Regions from separate parts of the Homo sapiens genome. Here region 2 is linked to region 1. Evidence: fine-mapped expression QTL. Tissue or cell type: anterior cingulate cortex. Region 1 holds a variant in brackets; the other region holds the start of a gene. All regions are shown on one strand. Distances are from middle to middle.

Region 1 (8,103 bases):
TGTAAGTAAGAATCATATAATATGTGGCCTTTTGCATTTGGCTTCTCTTTTTTTTTCTTTCTTCTTTCTTCTTTTTTTTTTTTTTTTTTTGAGATGAGGTCTTGCTGTGTTGCCCAGGTTGGTCTCAAACTCCTGGGTTCAAGCAATCCTCCCATCTCAGCCTCCTAAACTGCTGAGATTACAGCCATGACCCACCACACCCAGCTGGCTTCTTTTTCTTTTTTTTTTTTTTTTTTGAGACGGAGTCTTGCTCTGTCACCCAGGCTGGAGTGCAGTGGCCTGATCTCGGTTCACTGCAACCTCCGCCTCCTGGGTTCACGCCATTCTCCTGCCTTAGCCTCCCGAGTAGCCCGGACTACAGGCGCCTGCCACCACACCCTGCTAACTTTGTATTTTTAGTAGAGACAGGGTTTCACTGTGTTAGCCAGGATGGTCTCGATCGCCTGACCTCGTGATCCGCCCTCCTCGGCCTCCCAAAGTGCTGGGATTACAGGCGGGAGCCACCACGCCCAGCCTTGGCTTCTTTTTCTTAATGTTTCCAAGGTTCATCCATGTCGTAGCATGGATCAGTGCTTCATTACTTTTTATGGCCAAACAATATTCCATTGTATAGATCTAGATGTTTTATTAATATTTGTCCATTCATTAGTTGAGGGGCATATGGGTTGTTTCGACTTTTTGGCTGTTATGAATAATGTTGCTGTGAACACTTGTGTACAAGTTTCTGTGTGGACACGTGCTTCATTTCTCTTGGGTAGATACCTAGGTGTGGAATTGCTGGGTTGTACGGTATCCTTAACCATGTGGAGAACTGCCAGAATGATTTCCAAAGCATCTACACCATTTTGTATTCCCATAAGCAGTGTATGCAGTTCTCTTCAGAACACCTCTTCTTTTTTTTTTTTTTTTTTTTGAGACAGAGTCTCACTGTGTACCCAGGCTGGAGTGCAATGGCTCAATCATAGCTCGCTGCAGCCTCAGTCTCCTGGGCTCAAATGATCTCCCACCTCAGCCTCCCCAGTAGCTGGGACCACAGGTAGGAGCCACCACACCCAGCTAATTTTTTGATTTTTTGTAAAGATGAGGTCTTACTATGTTACCCAGGCTGGTCTTGAACTCCGGGCTCAAGGGCTACTCCCACCTTGGCCTCCCAAAGTGTTAGGATTACAGGTGTGAGTCACCACGCTTAGCTTAGGACACTTTTATAAACATAAACTCACAACAATAATCTTCATAACAACCCCAGAGATAGGCATCATTGCTGTAATCTTTCAGACGAGGACAATGATGGCAGAGAGGAGATGACACCAGCTATAAGGGTCGGGGCTTCAAGTCTGAGACTGCCTCATTTCCTGTGGGAAGCCTGACTTTTGAGCCAAAACAATAGGCTTTCAGGCTTTGAGAGGTGATGGAACAATGGGCAGAGAGGAGGAATCTGCAGGTCAAAGTCTTGGTGTGGAGATGGAAGCTCCTAGAGCATCAAAGCCACTTCTGTTTTTGTTTTATTGGGCAACAGTGGAGCCAGGTTCTGACTAATTAATGATAATCAAAGTGCTCTGACAAGAAGGAGAGTTCTGCAAATGCCAGCCATGAATTATTCATGGCCAGGTCTTCTTAACTGGGAGAGAGGAGGCTGCCTGGGAGTAGAAGAAAGCTAAGCTCTCACTTACCCTCAAGTTCGCATGAGCCTGAGCAGCCCCCACAGGACTCAGTTTCTCCATGCAGAAAATGGGGCCAGATGTGAGCTCTCATTTCTTCGTTTTTTTTTTTGTTTGTTTGTTTTTAATTTTTTTGAGATAGGGTCTTGCTCTAATGCCCAGGCTGGAGTGCAGTGGCACAGTCTCAGCTCATTGCAACCTTTGCCTCCCAGGCTCAACCTATCCTCCTGCCTCAGCCTCTCCAGTGTGAGGTGTGAGCTGGGACTACAGGTGCACACTATCATGCCCGGCTAATTTTTTTTTTTTTTTTTTTTTTTTTTTTTTTGTGTAGAGATGGGGTTTTGCTATGTTCCCCAGGCTGGTTTCCAACTCCAGCTCAAGCAGTTCACCCGCTTTGGCCTCCCAAAGTGCTGGGATTACAGGCATGAGTCACCATGCCTGGCCAGCTATCATTTCTCTCTCTTTTTTTTTTGAGACAGAGTCTCACTCTGTCGCCCAGGCTGGAGTGCAGTGGTGTGATCTCAGCTCACTGCAACCTCCGCCTCCTGGGTTCAAGCGATTCTCCTCCCTCAGCCTCCCGAGTAGCTGGGACTACAGGAGCGCACCACCACACCAGGCTAATTTTTGTATTTTTAGTAGAGACAGGGTTTCACCACATTGGCCAGGCTGGTCTCGAACTCCTGACCTCAAGTGATCCGCCCTCTTCGGCCTCCCAAAGTGCTGGGATTATAGGCGTGAGCCACTGCGCCTGGCCTCATTTCTTTATACTATCAGACCAGGACCTGCAGAGAAGGGCTGGTGACCTGGGTCCTGCTACCACTCAACTGGAGGCAGTGCACACCCAAGCTGCCCCTAGCAAGCGGCAAACAAAAACTAATAATACCAAAACATAGTTCAGGGGTTGGTAAGCTTTTTCTTTTCTTTTCTTTTCTTTTTTTTGAGATGTTGTCTTGCTCTGTCACCCAGGCTGGAGTGCAGTGGTGTGATTTCAGGTCACTGCAACCTCCCCATTCTGGGTTCAAGCGATTCTCCTGCCTCAGCCTCCCGAGTAGCTGGGATTATAGGCACGTGCCACCATGCCTGGCTAATTTTTGTATTTTTAGTAGAGATGGGGTTTCACCATGTTGGCCAGGCTGGTCTCGAACTCCTGACCTCAGGTGATCTACCCGCCTCAGCCTCCCAAAAGTGCTGGGATTACAGGTGTGAGCCACCGTGCCCGGCCTGGTAAGCCTTTTCTATCAAAGGCCAGGTAGTACATATTTTGGGCTTTGCAGGACATATGGTCTCTGTCACACTACCCAGCTCTGCCATTGTAGTGCAAAAGCGTCCATAGATAATCCATCAGCGAATGAATTCAGCCATCCAATGAAGCTTGGTGTACATTGACATTTGAATTCGATGTAATTTTCATGTGTCACAAAATATTATTCTCGTTTTTTTTTTTCCCCAACCATTTAAAAATGTAAAAACCATTTTTAGCTCCTGGAATGTGTAAAAACAAGTGTACCCTCAAAATGTTAAACATAATTACTATTCGACCCAGAATTTTCATTCCTAAATATATACCTAAAAGAAATGGCCTTGGCCGGGTGTGGTGGCTCACGCCTGTAATTCCAACACTTTGGGAGGCCGAGGCGGGCATATTACGAGGTCAGGAGATCAAGACCATCCTGGCTAACATGGTGAAACCCTGTCTCTACTAAAAATACAAAAAAAATCAGCCAGGTGTGGTGGCACGTGCCTGTAGTCCCAGCTACTCCGGAGGCTGAGGCAGGAGAATCGCTTAAACTCAGGCGGCAGAGGTTGCAGTGAGCCAAGACTGCGCCACTGCACAGCAGCCTGGGTGATAGACAGCCTGAGACAGACTCTGCCTCAAATAAAAAAAAAAAAAAGAAAGAAATGGCCAGGTGCGGTGGCTCATGCTTGTAATCCCAGCACTTTGGGAGGCCAAGCCGGGCAGATTGCCTGAGGTCAGGAGTTTAAGACCAGATATAAAGATATTTTTGGCCGGGCACGGTGGCTCATGCTTGTAATCCCAGTACTTTGGGAGGCTGAGGCGGGCGGATCACAAGGTCAGGAGATCGAGACCATCCTGGCTAACACAGTGAAACCCCGTCTCTACTAAAAATACCAAAAAAAAATTAGCTGGGCGTGGTGGCGGGCACCTGTAGTCCCAGCTACTCAGGACTCTGAGGCAGGAGAATGGTGTGAACCCGGAAGGTGGAGGTTGCAGTGAGCTGAGATCACGCCACTGCACTCCAGCCTGGGTGACAGAGCGAGACTCCGTCTCAAAAAAAAAAAAAAAAAAAGATTCTTTCTGGTTTTTCTGCAATTAATTTTAAGAGATCTACCCCAGTCACCTTCACAGTAGCGGCTCTGGATATATGAAAGTTGGGGGAAGCTGTGGAGGGGGACGCTATGAGAAAAGAGTCAGGAATGGGATGGGGTTTTGCTCACCTCAAGCCCTACTCCAGCCCCAAACCCCTCTCCTTTCATTCTCAAAGATATTAAGGAAATCAAGGTCAAATTGCCAGCTGTGTGGCCTTGGATTGATTCCTCACCCTGTGTGAGCCCTTTCCCATATATGTCATGTGGACTAAATTTCTGGAAAAGGCTTCCAGTCCTTTTCCTCCTTTCCTTCCTAGCACTGCTAAGCAAGACACAGGGAGTGACAGCTTTGCTTAGCAGTGCTGGGAAGGAAGGCAGAGAAAAGGAAGGTGGGGAGCATGGGGCGAGGAGGAGAAAGCTGTCATTGGAATGGCTGGTGGGTGTGGCAGAGGCAGCAGGTGGGACAGGTAGAGGGATT[C/T]GTCCCCTCCTGTCATTTTCTCTGCCCTGGAGCTTTGAGGCCATGATTACCCAATCTCTGGATGTAACTCTTAGAAAGGCTGTGCTGGGCTGAGCACTGGACATGGAGTCCAAAGACCTGCATTCTGCTCACACCTCACATTGGTCACCTGTGACCTTGCGCAAATTAGTTCTTCCTTTGAGCCTTGTCTTGCTCAGCTATGTAAGGAGTTAATGCTTGGCTGGTTGCAACAGTTCTAGGAAAGGTGCTTTGAAAAAGGCTAAGCACCTACAGTGCTGTCAGTGATGAACAAACTGTGGCACACCTTCCCTTGTTTTTTAAAATGTCTATCGAGATGTAATTCACATACCACACGATTCGCCCATTTTAAATGTGTGCTTCAGCAGGTTTTAGTCTATTCACAGAGTTGCACAACCATGATCACAATCAGTTTTAGAACATTTTCATCATCCCAAGAAGAAATCTGTACTCTTGCCAGGAGCAATGGCTCCCGCCTGTAGTCTCAGCGATGAGGGAGGATTGCTTAAGTCTGGGAGTTCAAGACCAGCGTAGGCAACATTAAAAACAAGAAAACCCAAAAAGAACCTTAGCTGGGTGTGGTGACACAAACCTGTAGTCCCAGCTATTCATGAGGCTGAGGCAGGACGATCGCTTGAGCCCGGGAGTTTGAAGCTGCAGTGAGCCATGATCCTACCCCTGTACTCTAACTTGGGCGACAGAGCAAGACGACTCAAAAAAACAAACAAAAAAACTAAAACGAAAAACAAAACCATACTCTTTATTTTATTTTTTAGAGATGGAGTCTAATTTTGTTGCCTAGATTGGTCTTCAACTCCTGAATTCAAGGGATCCTCTGCCTCAGCCTCCCAAAATGCTGCAATTTCAGGTGTGAGCTGCGCCCGGCCAAAACCCTACTCAGGAGCTCTCACCCTCCAGTCTTCTCAGGCCCCGGAGCCCCAGGCAAGTACTCATCTACTTTCTATCTCTATAGATGTGCTTATTCTGGACATTTCATAGAAATGAAATCATATAATGTGTTGTCTTTTGACTGACTTTTTTCATTTAGGATAATGCTTGCAAGTCTTGTCTATTTTGTAGCATATATAAACATTTAATTTTTTTTATAGTTGAATATGCCACATTTTATGTATCCATTCATCAGTTGATAGACATCTGTGGGCTTTTTTCCCTATTTTGGGGCTACTATGAATAGTGCTGCTATGAAGTTTTTGTGTAGACACGTTTTCATTTCTTTCTTTCTTTTTTTTTTTTTTTTGAGACAGAGTTTTGCTCTGTCGCTAGGCTGGAGTGCAATGGTGCCATATCAGCTCACTGCAACCTCTGGCTCCTGGGTTCAAGCGATTCTCCTGCCTCAGCCTCCCCAGTAGCTGGGACTACAGGCATGCGCCACCATGCCCGGCTAATTTTTTATATTTTAGTAGAGATGGGGTTTCACCATGTTGGCCAAGATGGTCTCGATCTCCTGACCTCGTGATCCACCCGTCTCGGCCTCCCAAAGTGCTGGGATTACAGGCATGAGCCGCCACGTCCAGCTTTTTTTTTTCTTTTGAGACAGAGTCTCACTCCGTCACCCAAGCTGGAGTGCAGTGGTGCGATCTTGGCTCACTGCAACCTCCACCTCCCTGGTTCAAGTGATTATCCTGTCTCAGCCTCCCAAGTAGCTGGGATTACAGGTGCATGCCACCACATCCAGTTAATTTTTGTATTTTTAGTAGAGACGGGGTTTCACCGAGTTGGCCCAGCTGGTCTTGAACTCAAGCGATTTGCCCGCCTCGGCCTCCCAAAGTGCTGGGATTATAGGAAATGAGCCACCGCACCCAGCCTATTTTATTTATTTATTTTATTAGAGGTAGGGTTTTGCCATATTGCCCAGGCTGTTCTCAGACTCCTGGGCACAAGTGATCTGCCTGCCTTGGTTTCCCAAAGAGTTGGGATTACAGGCATGCGCCACTGAGTGGGGCCATTCAGTTTTATTTTTAACTGACAAATAATAATTGTGTATATCTGTGGGGTATGAAATGATGTTTCAGTACCTGTATACATTATGGAATGATCAAATCAGGCTAATTAACATACTTATCACCTCATATACTTACTGTTTCTTTGCGATGAGAACATTTAAGATCTGTTCTTTTAGCTTTTTTGAAATATATATTATTATTAACTATCACCATGCTGTATACTAGATCACTAGAACCTGGTTGGAGAAAAATCAAAAGGATAGCTTGTGACCATGAAAATTACATGAATTCAAATTTTAACTTGAAATATCTACTATCTAGCCCTTTATAGTAAAACTCTGATGACTTCTGAACTAAACAAACACAGAGAAACTTGGATAGAATCTATAAGCGGAATGAAAAAAGCAAATAGAACAGTGATCTGTTGCTGCATAACAAATGATCCCAAAAGGTAATGGCTTAAAAACAGACATTTATTATCTCACATAGTTTCTATGGATAAAAAATTTGCAAGTGGCTTGACTGAGTGGTTTTGGCTTGGGGTCTCTGACAAGGTTATGGTTAAGATGTTGCTGGAGGCCGGGCATGGTGGCTTATGCCTGTAATCCCAGCACTTTGGGAGGCCGAGGCAGGTGGATCACGAGGTCAGGAGATCGAGACCATCCTGGCTAACAGGATGAAACCCTGTCTCTACTAAAAATACAAAAAAATTAGCCGGGCATGGTGGCGGGTGCCTGTAGTCCCAGCTACTCAGGAGGCTGAGGCAGGAGAATGGTGTGAACCCGGGAGGCGGAGCTTGCAGTGAGCGGAGATCGTGCCACTGCACTCCAGCCTGGGCGACAGAGCGAGACTCCATCTCAAACAAAAAAAAAAGATGTTGCTGGGACTGCAGTCATCTGAAGGCTTTACTGGGGCTGCACAATCACTTTCAAGATGGTTCACTTACATGGCTGGCAAGTTGGTGCTAGCTGTTTGCAGAAGGCCTCAATCCTGTTATACCTCTTCATAGGGCTACTTGAGTGTTCTCATAACATGACAGTTGAAGGTCGGGTGCCTCAACTCGTTGTTTTAATTTACAGTTCCCCCTGGGCATGGTGTCTCACACCTGTAATCCCAGCATTTTGGCAGTCCAAAGCAGGCGGGTCACCTGAGGTCAGGGGTTCAAGACCAGCCTGGCCAACATGGCGAAACCCCGTCTCTACTAAAAATACAAAAAAAATTAGCTGGGCATAGTGGCACACACCTGTAATCCCAGCTACTTGGGTGGCTGAGGCAGGAGAATTTCTTGAACCCAGGAGGCGGAGGTTGCAGTGAGCCGAGATCATGCCACTGCACTCCAGCCTGGGCGACAAAGTGAGACTTCATCTCAAAAAAAAAAAAGAAAGAAAAAAGAAAAAGAAAATGCTCAATTATTACCCAAATGGCAGTGCTGGTGGATTGCTCACTCCTCCCGCCAGCCTTCTGCCCTCTCTGGAGACAAACTGTGAATGCCCCCAGTTCTAGACTGTTGGTGGGAGAATCAAAACTCTCTTTAAAAATATTAATATATCCTATGACTCTAGGTCTTGTCACTTCTTTCACTTAGCTCTCTTAACCCTCATCAGCTCTGCCAGGTAGGAACTGAACTGTTATATCAAGATGCCCAGAGAAGTGAGTT
Region 2 (8,103 bases), 57 kb after region 1:
TTAAGAATGGCAAATGCCTTTTTTGTTTCCTAACTAAAAATGTAGTACACATGTTATGAAAAAGAGGCCAGCCAGTGTGGTGGCTCACACCTGTAATCCCAGCATTTTGGGAGGCCAAGGTGGGTGGATCACTTGAGGTCAGGAGTTCAAGACCAGTCTGGCCAACATAGTGAAACCCCATCTCTAGTAAAAATACAAAAAATTAGCCGGGCGTGGTGGTGCACACCTGTAATCCCAGCTACTTGGGAGGCTGAGGCAGGAGAATTGCTTGAACCTGGGAGGCAGAGGTTGCAGCGAGACAACATTGCACACTGCACACTGATAGAGCAAGACTCTACCTCGAAAAAAAAAAAAAAAAGGGCAGGCCAGACACAGTGGCTCACGCCTATAATCCCAGCACTTTGGGAGGCTGAGACAGGCAGATCATGAGGTCAGGAGATCGAGACCATCCTGGTCAACATGGTGAAACCCTGTCTGTACCAAAAATACAAAAATTAGCTGGGCGTGGTGACACATGCCTGTAATCCCAGCTACTCGGGAGACTGAGGCAGGAAAATAGCTTGAATCAGGGAGGCAGAGGTTGCGGTGAGCCAAGATCACGCCACTGCACTCTAGCCTGGCGACAGAGCAAGACTCTGTCTCAAAAAAAAAAAAAGAAAAAAAGGCAAATAAGGATGTATAATGTTTACATAGACATTGCTACTAACAATCCTATAAATACACAGCTATATCTACGTAAACATTCTAAATGGGTATCCCGGCTCCTCCATCTCTGCTCCTAGTCCCATCCCGCTTCAGGTGGAGCCAGTTCAGGAATTTGTTAACTATGTTCAGGGGAAAGGTCCCACTCATCAAAACACCTCTCTAAAGGAACTATTATCAAATATAATATCAAACTTTTTATCCTAGGATTCATCATTCATGGCAATCTTTTAAAAAATCTATGAAGTTGTATTAGTTCCCTGCCCCAAATCACCAGCTCAAGCTACACTGGCCTCTTTGCTGCTCCTTGAATACACCAGACATACATCTTGCCGCTAGGCTGTTCCCTCTGCCCAGAGCACTCTTCCCCTACACATCTACTCCCTCATCGCCTTCAAGTCTGCTCAGGTGTCACCATCTCAATAAGGATAAGGCTTACCCTGACCACATCATTTTAAATTGCACCCCGACTACAAACCTCCCACCTCCCCACTCAGACCCCCTTACCTTTCTCTACCTTTTTTCCCTCTTGAGATACTACTGCCTTCTAGGATACCATACAATTTATTTATTTACTGAATTCTTCTGTCTGTCCTCTCTAGAATGTAAGCTCCTTGAGAGCAGGGTCCTAATTTTGTTCACTGAAGTTATCCCAACTGCCTAGAAAAGTGCCTGACACATCATAGGGCTCAATGACTACCTGGTGAATGAGTAGATGAATGAATGATGAATGAACGAGTTACAAGGCCAAAAAGAACAAGTCCAAACTCCTTCTATTCTCCTCTACCCACTGCCAGCAGCCCACAGCTGGTGTTACAAAGAAAATGCTTTAATGAACATGCACCGCCATCTTCTTGCCTCCCAACTCCCGATTCACCAAATCAATCAGCTCTACCCTCTCCCTTTTGTTTTTTGGGGTTGGTTTTTTTGAGATGGAGTCTCACTCTGTCACCCAGGCTGGAGTGCAGTGGCAGGATCTCGGTTCACTGCAACCTCCACCTCCCAGGTTCAAGCGATTCTCCTGCCTCAGCCTCCCTAGTAGCTGGGACTACAGGCGCCCGTCACCATGGCTAGCTAATTTTTGTATTTTTAGTGGAAACAGGGTTTCACCATGTTGGCCAGGCTGGTCTCGAACTCCTGACCTCAAGTGATCCGCTTGCCTCCGCCTCCCAAAGTGCTGGGATTACAGTCCCCTTTTGTTTTCACCTGCTTAGACTCTGCTCCTATTCAAAGGTGAAAACTCCACTGACTTCTTCCCACCGGCAGAATGTCCTGGTCCCTCTCAACTCCAAGCAGCCTCTGGACCTCCGCAACAACACTTGACACCAGCTCTCTTGCGCTCTACTTCTGCAGGAGACTGTCTGCTCCCACTAAATTAACTTTACAGTTAAGCAGTCACAGGACTCATTACTAATCTTTGCATTCCCCTGAGGGTCATGCTCAGGGAACCACTGCTAAAGGGAAATTTCTGCCTGAAAAGCCCCGTTTAGGACCAGTGTTCTGTTCTGTCCTTCATCCCTGGTTATCTGCAGCCTGAGTTAGATAACCCACATGGACATCATCAGGCCATTCAATGAGAATGCAACTGAGCCAGGGCGTTCAGGGAACATAGCTTGAAAAGTCAAGTTTACAGTGGTCCTTAAAATTCACTGCTCAGAACATGAATCCACTTTCACCACTAAAAAGGTATCCTCCCACTATGGAAAAGACCAGAGTCCCTGATGAGGTGTTAAGTCATCTAATTCTCACAAGCCTATGGAGGATACTTTGCATGTAAAGGGGATAACGATCATGATGTGCTCTGGCTCTCCTCAAACCAAGTAACTGTCTTGTTTTAGTATTGGCAGGTGTCTTACTCCTTAAGGCTCATCCCTGTAAAAACAGAAACATATAATAAGAAGTATATATATATATAAAAACGCAGGCCGGGCCCGGTGGCTCACGCCTGTAATCCCAGAACTTTGGGAGGTCAGGAGATCGAGACCATCCTGGCCAACATGGTGAAACCCCATCTTTACTAAAAATACAAAAATTAGCTGGGCATGGTGGCACATGCCCAGCTGTGGTGGCTCACACCTGTAATCCCAACACTTTGGGAGGCTGAAGCGAGCACATCACTTGAGCTTAGGAATTCAAATCCAGCCTGGAGAAACCCCATCTTTACAAAAAAAAACAAAAATTAGGCCAGGCGTGGTGGCTCACATCTGTAATCCCAGCACCTTGGGAGGCCAACGTGGGCGGATCAATTGACGTCAGGAGTTCGAGACCAGACTGGCCAACATGGTAAAACCCTGACTCTACTAAAATACAAAAAAATTAGCCGGGTGTGGTGGTGTACACCTGTTAATCCCAGCTACTAGGGAGGTTGAGGCAGGAGAATCACTTGAACCCAGGAGGTGGAGGTTGCAGTGAGCCGAGATCATGCCACTACACTTCAGCCTGGGTGACAGAATGAGACTGTCTCAAAAAATAAAATAAACCAAAAAATACAAAAATTAGCCGGGCATGGTGGCGTGCACCATGGCAGAGGTTGCAGTGAGCCAAGATCATGTCACTGTACTCCAGACTGGGTGACAAGAGACCCTGTTTCAAAAAAAAAAAAAAAAAAGGCATGATGTATTGTATGCTTAATTCACTATAAACTGCTCTTTTAAAGGACATTACTAAGTTGGTGTTTTTATCTTTTAAATTTTTTTTTTTTTTTTTTTTTTGCAGAGACGGAGTCTCACTATGTTGCCCAGGCTGGTCTCAAATTCCTGGGCTTAAACGATCCTATTGCCTCAGCTTCCCAAAGTGCTGGACTTACAGGTGTGACCCACTGTACCTGGCAACTTGGTATTTTTATTTGAATTGATCTTGATGTCTCACACACCTAGCAACTACAATCTGTCATTTTCCCTTAATTCTAAAGAGAATGTAGATTCAAAGATACAGATACCATCTGGATCTTGATGTATTTTCACCAATATGTAAATCAATGGATAACCTTAGAGTTGTGACGCTTCTAGAAAATGCCCCCTCTGCCACAAGAATAAATGGGTTCACGAATCAGCCTCACATTAAGGTGAAGGCTGGACTTCTGGCGGTGGGGAGTGAGTTGCTCTATTACATTTTTGTTAAAGCAGAAAAGGACAGACACAAAAAGCTCTGGGAGAATCAGCCCTGGTTTTATTTTTGGTTGTTTTTTATTTTGTTTTGTTTTTGCCTCCTTGCCCAAGAAAGCCCATCTCCAGCCTCTTCCTAGACATGTTCTAACCAGGCTTCTACGGCCCCTTACGGACTCTCTATGGGCCCTGGGTCAGAAGCTGGGGCTCCTCTCTCCACACTTGCCGACAGTCACTTCCTCCTCTACAGTGTTCCATCCTGTGACCCCACTCTCTCCATTTCTTATTGACAAGAGTTCAAAAAACTGGCGTGGCATTCAGGACTCTCAAAACTGACACTTCCCAACGCATCCAATCTCAACTCCTCCCACAAGATCGCACCACACTGGCCCTCTCTACCCCACAGAGCAGCCTCCCCTTTGGGAATCCAGCTCCCCAAAGCCTGGGGTTTTCCATGGCCAGGAGGCTCCGATCGAGCCAAGCAAGTAAGGGAGTCGCCAGGCAGAGAACAATGACTGCTCCAAACACCCTTGGGAGATGGGATGGATAGATGGATGGGATGCCCAGGAGGTTAGGAACGCGTTGCTCACCTGGGGCGCGGCGGTCGGAGGCCTCGGGGCCATTCCTGCCTCGCCAGGGCCCGGCTCCGGGGCAGGAGCTGGGGAGAAAGGACAGGGCCCACTCACCCCGCTGCAACACCGACCCCACCCCGCCCCGCCCCGCCCCACCTCCGCCCCTAAACCACATCTCCAGGGGAGATGGTGGCGAGGACCGTGGAACCAGCCCGGGCCTGCCGCTCCCCATCCCCGAAATGAAAGGCTCAGCGGCCTCCCGGACACCCCCCTCCGGCCACGCCCAGTCCCCTTCGCAGGGTGGTGGGCGAGGCCCGGCTGACACCCGCCAAACCCAGGAGGGGTCCCGCCCAGACCCGCGCACTCAGAATCACCGCCTCTGGGGGGCTCCGGATTTCGCGACCTCCGGCCCACCCAGAGCCTCGGGCAGCTCCTCCCGCCCCCGCCGAAGCCTCGGTTATCTCCAATTCTGATCTGCGGAGGGGCTGCCCAAAGGGGCCTCAGCCGCACCGGGGTCGGACAATGGCCGCAGCGGTGGGGCAGAACTGGAAGTGCGCCTGCGCACTCGGAGCCTCGCTCCTGCAACCCCGGGTCCACGCCGGGCGCGCGAACTACACTTCCCAGAGGCCCGCGCGCGCAGGCCCCGCCTAGGCGGCTTCCGAAGGCGCGTTAGGGACCCTTGCGAGGGCCGAGGGAGGCGGCCAGTGTGGCTCGAGTGTGCGTGTCCCTGTATTCCAGTCACTGTCCGCCTCCTCTTTGCAAGGGGCTTGTTGCTAGCTGGGGAATCGGCCGGGAAAGACCCTGGTTTCGGGGAGCAATCGTACGCCCCTTTCGACGAGGCTGACGATAAAAACGCAAACATGTCAACAAGATAATGTCAGGTCCTGACTTCAGCGGTAAGAGTGACACAGGAAGGGAGTGAGACAGCGTCAGAGGGTGGGGCATTTACATCTTCTTCAAAAGGCAATTTTCCATTTCTCATTTTAGAGAAAAAAGAAACTTCGGACAAATCCGTGGCCTCCTGAGCAATGTGCAAAGGCAGATCTACTGCCGTGTTATTTCATTACTTCGTATCCCCTTACGCAGGATTTTGTTTGGGACAAGCAAACAATGATGGAAATTTTCTTTTTTTTTTTTGAGACACAGTTTCGCTCTTGTTGCCTAGGTTGGAGTGCAATGGCGCGATTTTGGCTCACCGCAGCCTCCGCCTCCTGGGTTCAAGCGATTCTCCCGCCTCAGCCTCCCGAGTAGCTGGGATTACAGGCATGCGATGCGTCACCAGGCCCGTCTAATTTTGTATATTTAGTAGAGACAGGTTTTCTCCATGTTGGTCATGCTGGTCTCGAACTCGCCTCGGCCTCCCAAAGTGCTGGGATTACAGGCATGGGCAACCGCGCCCGGCCCGATGGAAATTTTCAACACAAAGATAGGTCAACTTTTAGATACAGCTATTACGTTTATGTAATTATGTCTTATATATCACAGACATTCAGGCTACATTTCCTAGATTTCAGCTTGATTTCTTAACATTAGAGCATTGCATACCAACATGGTAGAAAATGACTGCAACGAAATGTTCCTGATGTCACACTGCTTTATCAAAAATATGAACATTCAAAAATAAATGCTTTATGCCGGGTGCGGTGGCTCAAGCCTGTGATCCCAGCACTTTGGGAGGCTGAGGCTGGCGGATCACCTGAGGTCAGGAGTTCGAGACCAGCCTGACCAACATGGAGATAGCTCGTCTCTACTAAAAATACAAAATTAGCCAGGCTTGGTGGCGCATGCCTGTAATCCCAGCTACTCAGAAAGCTGAGGCAGGAGAATCGCTTGAATCTGGGAGGCAGAGGTTGTGGTGAGCCGAGATTGCACCATTGCACTCCAACCTGGGCAACAACAGCAAAACTCCATCTCAAAAAAAACAAAACAAAAAAGGGAGAAAATTTCCATCACTGTTGGCTTGTCCCAAACACAAAATCCTGCGCAAGGGGCTAACAAGTAATGAAATAACACGTCAATAGCACAGGGAGGCTGAGGAGGGAGGAGCCCAGGAATTAAAAGACCAGCTTGGGCAACATGGCAAAACCCTGTCTCTACAAAAAATACAAACATTAACTGGTTGCAATAGTGTGCGCCTGTGGTCCCAGCTACTTGGGAGGCTGAGGTGGGAAGATCGTTTGAACCCGGGAAGCAGAGGTTGTGGTGGGCTGTGATTTCACCACAGCACTCCGACCTGGGCGACAAAGCGAGACTGTCTCAAAAAATATATATAAAAATTAATGAATGCTTTCTATCACTGCTTTGTGAATATAGTGGTCTGGAATTAGCAGAATGCATAATTCACAAGTATGAATTAGAGTGGACCGGGAGGCCTCTCTGAGGCAAGTGACTTAGTAGCTGCAACTTAAGGCAACTGCAGGCTGGGCATGGTGGCTCACGCCTGTAATCCCAGCACTTTGGGAGGCTGAGGGGGGCAGATCACTTGAGGTCAGGAGTTCGAGACCAGCCTGGCCAACATAGTAAAACCCCATCTCTACTAAACATACAAAAATTAGCAGGGTGTGGTGGCGTGCGCCTGTACTCACAGCTACTTGGGAGGCTGTAGCAGGGGAATCGCTTGAACCTGGGAGGTGGGGGTTGCAGTGAGCCAAGATTGCACCACTGCACTCCAACCTGGGTGAGAGATGGAGACTCTGTCTCAAAAAAAAAAAAGCCCAACAACAACAAAACAACTGCAGGTGCATAAGGGGAAAAGAATTCCAGGCTGAAGAAACTGAAGGTGCAAAAGCTGTCAGATGGGAACAAGCTTGGTGTGCTTAGGAACAGATAGATGCCTAATGTACCTTAGCAGAGTGAGGGATAAGAGAGTGAGCAGAGCAGAGGTAGGGCAGGTAGACTGGGACTTGATGGAACAAGGCTTTGGAGGTTGTGATGAGGGGTGTGGATTTTGAGTGTGATGAGAGCCATTGGCTTAGTAACAGCAGTGGAGTCACTTATTACTATGAGAGAATAAGAGGAATTTTTCCTACTGTCCCAGAATTGGTAACCAGGTCTCAAGAGTTGAGGATTAAGTTCTGCATTCTAAGGAAAGATGAAAACATTTGGGGTGAGAACCTCTCAGGTCTTATCAAAGGAAGCTGGGTGCTGAATTCTGAATTTGCTGTTACTATTAACCACTGACGCAATGCCACCCCTCTTTTCCCAGGCTATATAAGAGTATGACGGGAAAGAAAAGGAAAAATCCGTACCCAGGCACAGTGGCCTATAATTCCCACACTTTGGGAGGCTGAGGAGGGAGGATCGCTTGAGCCTAGGCGTTCCAGACCATCCTGGTCAACATAGTGAGACCTTGTTTCTACAATAGTAATAATAATGCCAGGTGTGGTGGCATGCCGGTAGTCCCCAACTACTGGGGAGGCTGAGGTGGGAGAATCAGCTTGAGCTAGGGGAGGTTGAGGATGCAGTGAGCTGAGATCGTGCCACTGTACTCCAGCTGGCGTGACAGAGCAAGACCCTCTCTCAAAAGAAAGAAAAAGAATTCCTTAGACGAGTAAGCCTTCCACCTAGTGCGGAAGGCAGCGTTCACCACCGCTCCTACTTGCAAGATGAATGTGAGAAAGAGCACTCAAACATTGAGCCTACCCAGGAGAGCAGAGGTTTTAAAACCTGCACTGGTACCTCCCAGAGAAAAGGGAAAGAGAACAACGCTGTTTGTAAGGAGAGCA

What was found. PIP is the estimated chance that this variant, and not a neighbour inherited with it, causes the effect.
Region 2: it holds the start of ZFP90, and the variant in region 1 is fine-mapped to the expression of ZFP90 in anterior cingulate cortex (GTEx, PIP 0.97).

The regions. Positions count from the first base shown.
Region 1 is chr16:68,593,224-68,601,326 of GRCh38, reverse strand. No RefSeq gene overlaps it. Among named protein-coding and RNA genes, the nearest start is that of CDH3, 48 kb to the left of the region's middle. The variant C/T (reference allele first, on the strand shown) is at 4,465.
Region 2 is chr16:68,536,119-68,544,221 of GRCh38, reverse strand. It overlaps ZFP90 (ZFP90 zinc finger protein), which reads right to left and starts at 4,931. Exons shown (of 5, transcript NM_001305203.2): 1 at 4,743-4,931; 2 at 4,397-4,464. The coding sequence starts at 4,429.